Linked DNA regions of Homo sapiens: region 2 is linked to region 1. The links come from fine-mapping of genetic effects on gene expression. A gene starts in region 1. The other region holds a variant in brackets. All regions are shown on one strand. Distances are from middle to middle. Region 1 holds the start of BRAF (B-Raf proto-oncogene, serine/threonine kinase). Region 2 overlaps BRAF (B-Raf proto-oncogene, serine/threonine kinase).

What was found. PIP is the estimated chance that this variant, and not a neighbour inherited with it, causes the effect.
Region 2: its variant is fine-mapped to the expression of BRAF in whole blood (TOPMed, PIP above 0.99).

Annotation. Positions count from the first base shown.
Region 1 is chr7:140,921,800-140,927,177 of GRCh38, forward strand. BRAF (B-Raf proto-oncogene, serine/threonine kinase) reads right to left here and starts at 3,130. Exons shown (of 18, transcript NM_004333.6): 1 at 2,767-3,130. The coding sequence starts at 2,904. LOC105375536 (a long non-coding RNA gene) reads left to right here and starts at 3,293. Exons shown (of 5, transcript XR_002956518.2): 1 at 3,293-4,703; 2 at 5,272-5,378. RefSeq lists a silencer at 2,953-3,022.
Region 2 is chr7:140,836,171-140,841,548 of GRCh38, forward strand. The region is part of intron 2 of BRAF (B-Raf proto-oncogene, serine/threonine kinase); the gene reads right to left. Among named protein-coding and RNA genes, the nearest start is that of BRAF, 86 kb to the right of the region's middle. The variant T/C (reference allele first, on the strand shown) is at 3,021.

The DNA.
Region 1 (5,378 bases):
TTAAAAAAAAAAAACCTACATTTTACTGTTAGGTAAAATAAATCTTCAGAATAAAATGTGTCATTACACACAAGCAAACCTTTTCATTCTTTCCATGTAATTTGCAGTAAAAGATCCCTTTAAGTGAATGTAAGGAAGACTTCAAATAAAAGACCACAGCACATTTCAGTTTCCACTGAATATCAACTTCAAATTTAAAATTATTTCTTGGAGGAATTTATTTTATCATCTGTAATACTGATATTTACATTCAAGAGATACATTTTTTAATCAATGTCACCCTCCCAGCCAAATACATTTATTATCAGTTCAGAAAAAAATGTAGAGGGAAAACTACTGTTCACCACTAAACATTAAAACCTGGGTAAAGAGGACAGTAGGAAACACTTGTTTTTTAACCAAGTAAAATGAGAGTATCCTTATAGTTTCAGAAGATATGAATATGCTTTCCAATTACTGGCAATTTATACTTAAATTCAGCTAGCCTAGAGGTTCTCAAGGATTGGTACATGGGAACTGCTCAAGACATGTGCCAAATACAGAAATCCATGGCCCTCGCTCTCACTTACTAAATCAGACTCTTCAGGGGGTACAGTTCCAAACAATCTGGCCCTTTCAAATAAAATAGAAGGGTAGAGATTTTACTTCACAAAAGCCTTCTTTACAGAATTGCAAACGGTTCTAATAACTCTGCAGCAAAGTTCCCAAGATAAACAATTTTATAATCAGAGAATTACAATTTCATAACCCCTACTTATTACTTCACTCATTGTTCCACTCTGTAGTAGTCTTCAAACAAGATACAATTCAACAAAACTACACATCTATTACAGAGTAAAATAAAATCCAGAGGCACCTGTGCCTGGTTAAGACAAAGGCATATCCGATTCCTGGAGAAAACAGACAGCAGATGTGACCCCTAGTATTTATCCATTAAAAACAATGTATCCTAAAAATAAATTTCCATGTCAAAGGAAACAAAGATGTTTATAAATAAGAAGGAACGTGGAGGTGTGGAGAAGAAAAGAGGAAGCTTCAGAAAGTTAAGTACCAAAAGCCAGGAAACAAGGCAAAATGAATGGTAACTGGAAACAAGGGAAACAGAATAAACTAGGAAATTGAAGTAGAGAAGAGCTTTCTCCTTAGAAATCAAGAAGCTGGGGGAAAGGAACAGATATGAGAGGAAACTGATCTAAGCAAAAATGCATACTGAAAAGTGGAATGATTTTAAGAAACTTAAAAATGAGAAATTTTAGAACAGATCAAATGATGGTACAGAACACATTTTGGGCATGTAACAAAGATGATATAAAGAGTAGAAAACAAACATTATCATAAACAAGCTGATGCTGAATAAAGCAAGCATATTGGATGAATTTCCAAAGATGATGATGCAAAAAAAAAATTGCAGAGAGAATGAGATGTTATGAGAATTGAGAAATTAGATGTTAATAGTAAGTAGCAAAGAGAACTTCGAGCAAAGTCAACAGAGTAAGTCACATTACCTAATCAATAACTGTAAACCACAATTATTATACCATATCTTATTTGTAAAGCATAATAAAGTATTATTTTCTGTAATAAAATACCAAATATTTGTAATAAATTTTATGTAATAAAAAAACGTAAATAATTTGACACAGTGCTAAGAGGCTGACTAATGCAAAAACAGGCTGAGAGAAGCAAGGACTGGAGAGGAAAAAGGAAAAGGAAAAAAATAGGACAAAAAGGAGGACAACACTAAGAAATCAATCAGACCTATAAAAATGGGTAGGAATAAAGAGGTGTGAATGCACAATGGACGACTAGCCAAAAAGTGCCAGTAGTGCAAGCGCGAAAAGAGCCAAGTGAAACCTGATGGAATCTTGACAGCTTCTGGGCTCAGAAAACAAGTAGCTCCAAAGTGTCCAGGAGGATTTGTGAAGATAACAACAGACAACAATGTTAGGGAGTGGTGAGATCAAGTACAGAGCCTCAAGAGGACCAGGGTAAGAGAAGTGCAAAAATGCTCTTAAGTGGGAGCTGGGGTTAGAAGGCAGGCAGGTCCGACAACTGGAAAATGAGCGGGCGGTAGATGGGAATAGAATGGGGGTTACCAATCAGCGACAGAGCGCTGACAAACATTAGGAACAGAGGACCAGAGACCAGAAAAGGCATCGGAAACTGCGATTTAGGATTGAAAAAGTAAAGACTAAATCAAAATAATTTGCTGGGTAAAACAGGTGAAGAGAAATCCCCAAATAGAAAAGTGAAAAAGGGCAGCGGACTGAGAAGGGGGGCAGTCCGGGAGAGGAGAGAGGAAATGATGAGCCCCATCATCCCCACGACCATGTAAGAATTACACGCGACAGTAACTCGGGCTGTTGTCTCAGCCCCAGCAACTAACCTATATCCTCCACGTCGAGGCCGCCGCCGCCCCCACCCCACAGAGATGCAGAGCTGGATACTTCAGCCAATCGTGACCTTCTCGGACCAACCCTGAGTTTCGCCCCCTATTGATAGCCTCCCGCTCAACCACCGCTGCCCCAATCCCCACATCTGGGGTGGGGGCCAGGGAAACCCCCCGGGCCATTGTGTGTGTTTACGTAGGAAGGCGCTGCATGACGGAGAGGGACACGGGGGCGATGCCCACCTCCCAGCCCGCGGAGCTGGCCCGAGAAGGTGGCTGAGGGCATCAAGCCCCCACCGCCGCCTCTTTCCAAAATAAACACCAGCCAGCCGCCGAGCCCGGAGTCGGGAGGGCGGCAGGGTGGCGCCAGCACTCACCTCCTCCGGAATGGCAGGGTCCGCAGCCGAAGAGGCCGCGGCGCCGGCGCCGGCGCCGGCCTCGGGCTCCATGTCCCCGTTGAACAGAGCCTGGCCCGGCTCCGCGCCGCCACCACCGCCACCGCTCAGCGCCGCCATCTTATAACCGAGAGCCGGGGCCCGAGCGGCCGCTGTCGGGCGGGGAGGGGGAAGGGAGGCGGAGAGCTGGGGGAGGCGGAGGCGGAGGCGGAGGCGGAGGAGCGGGGGGCGCGGGGGGCGCGGGGAGGAGCGGCCCGGGCGGCGCCGCGGGCGGAGGGCGCCTGGGCCACCTCAGGTACCGGCCCGCGGCCCCGGGCGCAGCCGAGCCTGAGGGGATTGGGGGAAGGACGCTAGGCGGGGGTGCGGGGGGGAGCGGGGGAAGGGGGCGGAGACGACGAGAAGTCGCCGCGGCAACGGCGTCACCCGCGTGTCACGGTCGTGACGTCACCCCGGTGCGTGACGTAATCTGAGGCGCGCCTTCGCGCCGTCGTCCGGGGAGGGTTTTTTCCCTTCTAACCACCCGCGCTCTCACACTTTGCCTCCGCTCCGCCGTTTCCATGGCTCCGGTTTCCTACTTTCCTCTTGTCTCCTCCGTCCTCAGCCTGTTCTGTAATGTGGGATTTACTAGAAGAGCAGGGCTGGTGTTCGAGGAGGAGAAGTTGAAATCCTAGAGGGAGGAAGGCGGGGAAGCCAATACTACTTGCTATTTCCACTGCAATGAACGTCTCTGTGTCATCAAAATAAGAACTTCAACCCCAAGGTTGAAACAGCCAAGCAGAATTTGATGGAAATATATTTAGGAACAGCTAAATTAGCAGTGCGACGCGTGTTTTCTTTTCATTGAAGAATTCAGCCAGTTAAAACGAGTCTAAATGGAAGTCTGAAAGCTTTTTCTTCATTGTTGAGGAATAAAATATTTCGTGTATTTTTCGTTTTCCAGATTCATTCATTTAACAAATATCAGTTGAGCACTTTCCATGCCGTAGGGCCTGTACAAGGCACATAGCATTCTAGACATCTGAAGCATCAAAACTAATCATTTTTATTTTGAAGAAAATCACTCAAAATATTTTATGTACTTTGTGCCTTTCATGAACAGAATATTCCAAGCATTCTCTGCAAAATACGCATGAAAACAATTGGGAGAGAAGAGGTCAATTATCTTTGAGAAGCCCAATTACAGAATGAAATTCAATTCATTATTAAAAATACATGGATCTAATAAAGAATAAATAATTGGAAAAGAAAAGTTTAAGGAAGAGAGAAACGGGAATGAGAAACAATTACTGTGGGCTCCCAATGGCCTGGAGTGAATCACCAAAGTAACCTAAACATGAAGTCATGAAAAACTAAGTGGATTCTGCCTTTTAGTACTTCCCATCATGGGGGAAGTCACCAGCGACCTCCTTACTGTATTTTGGATGATTCAAGAAATAGAAAGGTGTCCTACTGACTTCTGAAACAGGGTGTCTTCATATTGATTAGGGTCACCGTAAGCCTGGGAGCTGATGCTTACTCTCAGGTAAAGGATGCTGTGTGAGGCTGCTTGATGAATGAGAATACTAACATTCTTCTGCATTGAAAAAATATAACCTATAAGATGAACATTGTAGGCCGGGCGCAGTGGCTCACGCCTGTAATCCCAACACTTTGGGAGTCTGAGGCGGATGGATCACCTGAGGCCAGGAGTTTGAGACCAGCCTGGCCAACGTAGTGAAACCTCATCTCTATTAAAAGTACAAAAAATTAGCCTGGTGTGGTGGTGCACACTTGTAATCCCAGCTACTCAGGAGCCTGAGGCAGGAGAATCATTTGAACCTGGGAGGCAGAGGTTGCAGTGAGCCGAGATTGCACCACTGAACTCCAGCCTGGGCAACAGAGCCAGACTCTGTCTCCAAAAAAAAAAAAACATGAACATGGTATGCTTTGTTAACTTCATTGTACATTCTCCTCCAAGTAGGAAAGTTTCTATGAGGAAATAAATTTAAATCAAAAAGTGGCTTGGCAAATGTAGAGTAAATGATCACAAGGGATGATGTCATCAAGCTAAACTAATCTGAAGCACCCTTTACTATAAGGACATACTTAGAAGCAGACTGAAATAGCACCATTAGCCAGTCATGGCACCTTTTCCCCTTTCATCACCCTTTCATCACCCTTTCATCAGAAACACAACTGGCAAGATTTTTGTTAATTCTCTAACTGTCCTATTTCATTTTTAAAAAATTAGCTGCTAAAAATGTTATATCATTATAACACTTCCTTATAACATTAAAAGTTTTAAAGGCTTTTATCCTCACATTGGTTCCATTTTGAATTCTAGCCTTATTTGTCAGTATCAGTCTGTAGTTCAGATCTTCCATGATTATTTCTCCACAGGATGACTGGTCTCATCCATTTAATATTGATTCTTCTTAGCGTTCTACTCATTTGACATTTTCTGACCTTGCCTTAAAATTCTGGATATATCCTGTTTTACTTCCTTAGGCCATTCTAAAGTCCTACAGTATCCAGATGAGAAACGAGAGAAAGCATAAGCTTTGGAGTCCAAAGATCAGGATTTTAGCGTCAGCACTCCACACCTTAGCTATACA
Region 2 (5,378 bases), 86 kb before region 1:
CAATGTCATACAATACCTGGGACATAGCAAAAGATCAATATATGTTTGTGAAATTTAAATGAAGCTTTAGCAGCATCCCTGTTTTCTTAAAAAGGAAAGAAAGAAATTTAAATGAAAAATAGGTAAAGAAACAATAAGGCTGAAAAGGTGAAAGGGAATAGATTGTAGAGAGTATATACGCCATGCTATCAAGTCTGAATGTAAGGGAGGAAGGGAGAATTATAAAATGTAGAGGAGAATGAAAGAGAAATTTCATTTCAATAAGGGCCACAGGACCCTGCTATGCTGCATCTTACCACATACTTTCGAACAAATAAGGGGGGCGGGGAATAGTAACAAGAGCTACTGAGGAAGAGATTTAAACTTCATCAAAAGGTCTTCTTTGTTTACAGCCTGCTAGTTGCCCTACCCAGACCCTGTTTCATAGTAGATGAGGGCATTATAAACAGATAGATTCCAAATTTTCTGAGCTACAATTTGGTTTAGCTTTCAGTACCAAGGCCTAATTACTTAAGCATACTTCTCTCAATAAAATTTATTTATTGAGCCTTCAATCACTCAGTAAATATATACTGATACATGTGCTTGGCACTGTTAGGGCTCAGACTACAACCACACATAAGACAAACACAATTCCTACTCTTTGAAGATCACATAAATGCAGTCTGGAACACAAAGGTTCCTCCTGCATGGATAAAATATTCTTATTTACTGTCACCTGAGCAAGTACAGTTACTAGACAAAATAAACCTTAGGAAAAGTAATGAAAAGAACAATTTTCCAAACATATTTCCTTACCAAAATGTTAGCTTTAATTTTTGAAAGTATACTGATCCCTCCATGACAGATTATAAACTATCACTTCACCACATCTATCAATAGCTTTTCCTTTTGTTAAGTACAAAACATCTACTTATTCCATCTGTCCCTATCCTCAAAGCTGCAATCTACCAAGGCCCCTGGCTCATTTTACCTACTGCCCTTGCTGCATTCAATATGAACTTCAATTACTCTTTTAACACTGCCATAGATTTCTCTAAACCTCTCACCTCTAAAAGCATTTATTTCCATTCTACCTTTAAGACCCGGAGAAGCATCACAGTCTTTACAAAAGCAATAAAAATGATGAAATGATCTCGATTTAGAACCTCACGCACCCCTGGGGCACACATACTTATCCCAACTTCTTAAATGTCTATCTCATTACATTAATCTGTTCAAGGTCAACATTAATCTCTCAAACAGTTGCTAAGATTTGGCCATTGTTGTCTTCCTTCACATACTTTGCGGCTCACAACTACAACAATGCCATTGGTGATATCTTAAGATTTTCAGGCTAATTCTTGTTATTTTATCAACTAGCTTGCCAGATACAAATTTTGGGTAAGTCTGACCATTCAATTGTTCTATTTTTTCCTGTCAGGTTACCACACACTGTTGGAGAAAATAATAAAACTGGTCTAATTAGTTCTATGATCAATTTATGGAACTTAGATTTGCCTGGTCCTTCACACTACTGCCTGAAAATCATGCTTGTTTTTAACATCATATTACAGTCAAAACAGTTATTCCAATCTTCCTAATTCTTCTCTGGATCTTAACTTCATCCTTCAACTTTTAATTCACTCTGAAAATAACATTACCTTCAAATCCACTCTGAAGATCAAAGTCATCAAATGAAAAGTTTACTCTACTTCTTTATCTACAAAATTCTCCACATCTTTCCCCATTCTTCTTCTACTCTCACTTCAGTGCTAATATTGGGTGTTTAGGGCCTTAGTCTACCATTCCCTCAGTTTTCTCTCATATCATCTACTTTTCCCTTTTCCTCTGTTTTCTCACTCTACTAATATGAGCAAGCCACTCCAACATATGTGCAAACCTCAACCACAACCACCACCACCATTTCTTTTGGTTATTCAAGATGCTGCAGATACCAGATACCACTTCTTCAGGAGACAGTTGTTCAAAAACCCTATTCCTTCTCATCAAAACTCTAAATATTTTTCAAAAAGTCTAATTCTAAGCTCTCTTTGTCAAAATCCAGAAGAGGTATCCTTTCTCTTTATCTCCTTTAGAATATTTTATCATACTCTTCTTTATATGGCAAATTTTTCTCAACTTCAAAATAATTTTGTGAGGATTAAATGAGATAACACAAGTAAAACAAATTATTGTAGAGACTACCACATAGCAAAAATCCAATAAATATTTGTATTAGTAATAATTGATAACCTGGGAGGCGGAGGTTGCAGTGAGTTGAGATCACGCCACTGCACTCCAGCCTGGCAACGAGAGCAAGACTCCATCTCAAAAAAGAAAAAAGAATCTAAGAAGACTTAATATCATTAAAATGACAACGCTTCCCAAGTTGATCTACAGATTCAATGCAATCCTTCTCAAAATCTCAATTTTTTTTTGTAGAAACTGACAAGCTGATCTTAAAATTCATATGGAAATACAACGGACTTGAAATTATCAAAACAATCTTATAAAAGAAAAAAGAAGTTGGAGGACTTATACTTCCTGATTCCAAAACTTAACTATAAAACTATAGTAATCAAGACAGCGCAATAATTTTGGAATAAGAACACACATATAGAACAGAATAGAACAAGGTACAACTAGTAAATCCATAAAGGCAAAAAGTAGATCAGTGGTTGTCAGGGGCTGGAGGGAATGACTTCCAATGCATGAAGGGTTTCTTTGTGGGAATGATAAAAATATTTTAGAATCAGATAGTGGTGACAGTTGTCCATTGTGTAAATACACTAAGAACCACTGAATTACACACTTTAAAAAAGTGAATAATATAGTATGTGAATTATTTCTCAATAGAACAAGAAATAAAACCTTACATTTACAGTCAATTGATTTTTTTTTTTTACAAAGCCAGCAAGACAATTCAATGCAGAAAGAATGGTCTCTTCAACAACTGGCGCTGGTACAACTGAATATCCACACACAGAAGAATGAAGTTGGGCTACTACCTCACAACATATCCAAAAACTAACTCGAAA[T/C]AGGCCAGGCATGTTGGCTCACGCCTGCAATCCCAGCTCTTTGGGAGGTCAACGCTGGAGGATCACTCGAGGCCAGGAGTTCAAGACCTGACTGGGCAACATAGACTCCATCTTTACAAAAATTAAAAACAAAACAAAATGGGTCACATATCTATTATATAATTGAGCACCCTCATTTTTCTAAGAAAAAGTTTAATTATTTTTTTCTTTCCTCCTCCTCCCCACTTCCTACTTAGCTCTTTAGAAATGCAATTATATGCCAGGGGTGGTGGCTCACACCAGTAATCCCAGTACTTTGGGAGGCCAAGGCAGGCAGATCACTTGAGCCCAGGAGTTTGAGGCTAGCCTGGGAAACATGGTGAAACCCCATCTCTAAAAAAAATATGAAACTTGGCTGGGCATGGTGGCATGCACATATAGTCCCAGCAACCCAGGAGGCTGAAGCGGGAGGATCGCCTGAGCCCAGGAGGTAGAGGCTGCAATGAGCCGAGATCATGCCACTACACTCCAACCTGAGTGACAGAATGAGATTCTGTTTCAAAAAGAAAAAGATAAAAGAATAAAAGAAATGCAATTATGGCCTTTTATCTCCTTTTCACCAGACATTCCCTACAAGGCAAGTTGATCTAATTATGTGCTTAGACAATCCTGAGTGGAACTCTCACCCGTCAGGAAGTTGCCTCAAGAGGTAATAGTTGATCTACAACCAAAAGTAAGACTGCTAGAGTTTTCAGCCACCTCTGAGGTATTTTTGCCCATGAAGCCACCAACTTGACTGCCTGAGAAAGAAGGCACCGAAGGGAATATGCAGATCTTCCACCCGCTCATTTCTGCCCCCGTGTAGGCACCTTCTTTAAAAGCACCCACTTTCTGCTCCAACAGGGAAGCAGTACCCTTAAGGCAGGAAGCCTGTACGTCTTCTTCCTTTAAGCTAACTTTGGAATAAAAAAGTCACTTTATACTAGACTTTGCTCTTACTAATTGGACTCTGCAGGCAGCAAGCAACTAAACCTGTTTTGGCTATATAACTAATACTATAAAACTCTTAGGAAAAAAACACAGGAGTAAATCATCCTGACCTTTGATTAGGCAATGGTCTCTCATGTATGATACACCAAAAGCACAGCAACCACAGAAAATAGATAAATTGGAATTCCATCCACATTTAAACTTTAAAATAGATAAATTGGAATTCCATCCACATTTAAACTTTTGTACTTCAAAAGACAAAATTGAAAGAGTGGGAAAAAATACCACAGAATGGGAGAAAATATTTGCAAGTCATGGATCTACTATCTAGAATATATAAAGAACTCCTGGCCAGGTGCGGTGGCTCATACCTGTAATCCCAGCACTTTGGGAGGCCAAGGCGGGAGGATTGCTTGAGTCCAGGTGTTCGAGACCAGCCTGGGCAACATGGCAAATCCCCATCTCTACAAAAAATACAAAAATTATCCAGGCACAGTGACGCATGCCTGTAGTCCCAGCTGCCCGGGAGGCTGAGGTGGGAGGATGGCTTGAGCCTAGGAGGTAGAGGTTGCAGTCAGTCGAGATGGTGCCCCTGCATTCCAGCCTGGGTGACTCTGCCATCTTGGCTCACTGCAACTTCCGCCTCCCAGGCTCAAGCGATCCTCCCATCTCAGCCTCCCGGGCAGGTGGGACTACAGGCATGCACCACCACGCCTGGATAATTTTTGTATTTTTTGTAGAGACGGGGTTTCGCCATGTTGCCTAGGCTGATCTCGAACTCCTGGACTCAAGTGATCCATCCACCTCAGCCTCCCAAAGTGCTGGGATTACAGGTGTGAGCCACCATGCCTGGCCTAAAGAACTCTTACAACTCAGTAATAAAAGGACAAACCCAGTTTTTTTAAGTGGGCAAAGGATTTGAATAGACATTTCTCCAAAGAAGATATACAAATGGCTAACAAGAACATGAAAAGATGTTCTATATTATTAGTCATTAGGAAACTGCAAATCAAAACCAAATGAAATACCAATTCACACCTACTAAGATGGCTTTAATTAAAAAAACAAATAGATAATAACAAGGGTTGATGAGGATGGAGAGAAACTGTAACCCTCATACATTGCTGTTAGGAATACAAAATAGTGCAGCAACTTTGAAAAACTGTCTGGCAGTTAGTTCCTCAAAGTGTAAAACAGAGTTACCACAAGACCCAGCAATTCTATTCCTAGGCATACAGCCAGGAAAAATGAAAATATATCTACACAAAAACTTGCACGTGAATGTTCATGGTGGCATTATTCATAATGGCAAAAACATATAAGTAGCCCAAATGTTCATCAGTTGATGAATGGATAAACAAAACATGATATATGTGTATGATGAAATAT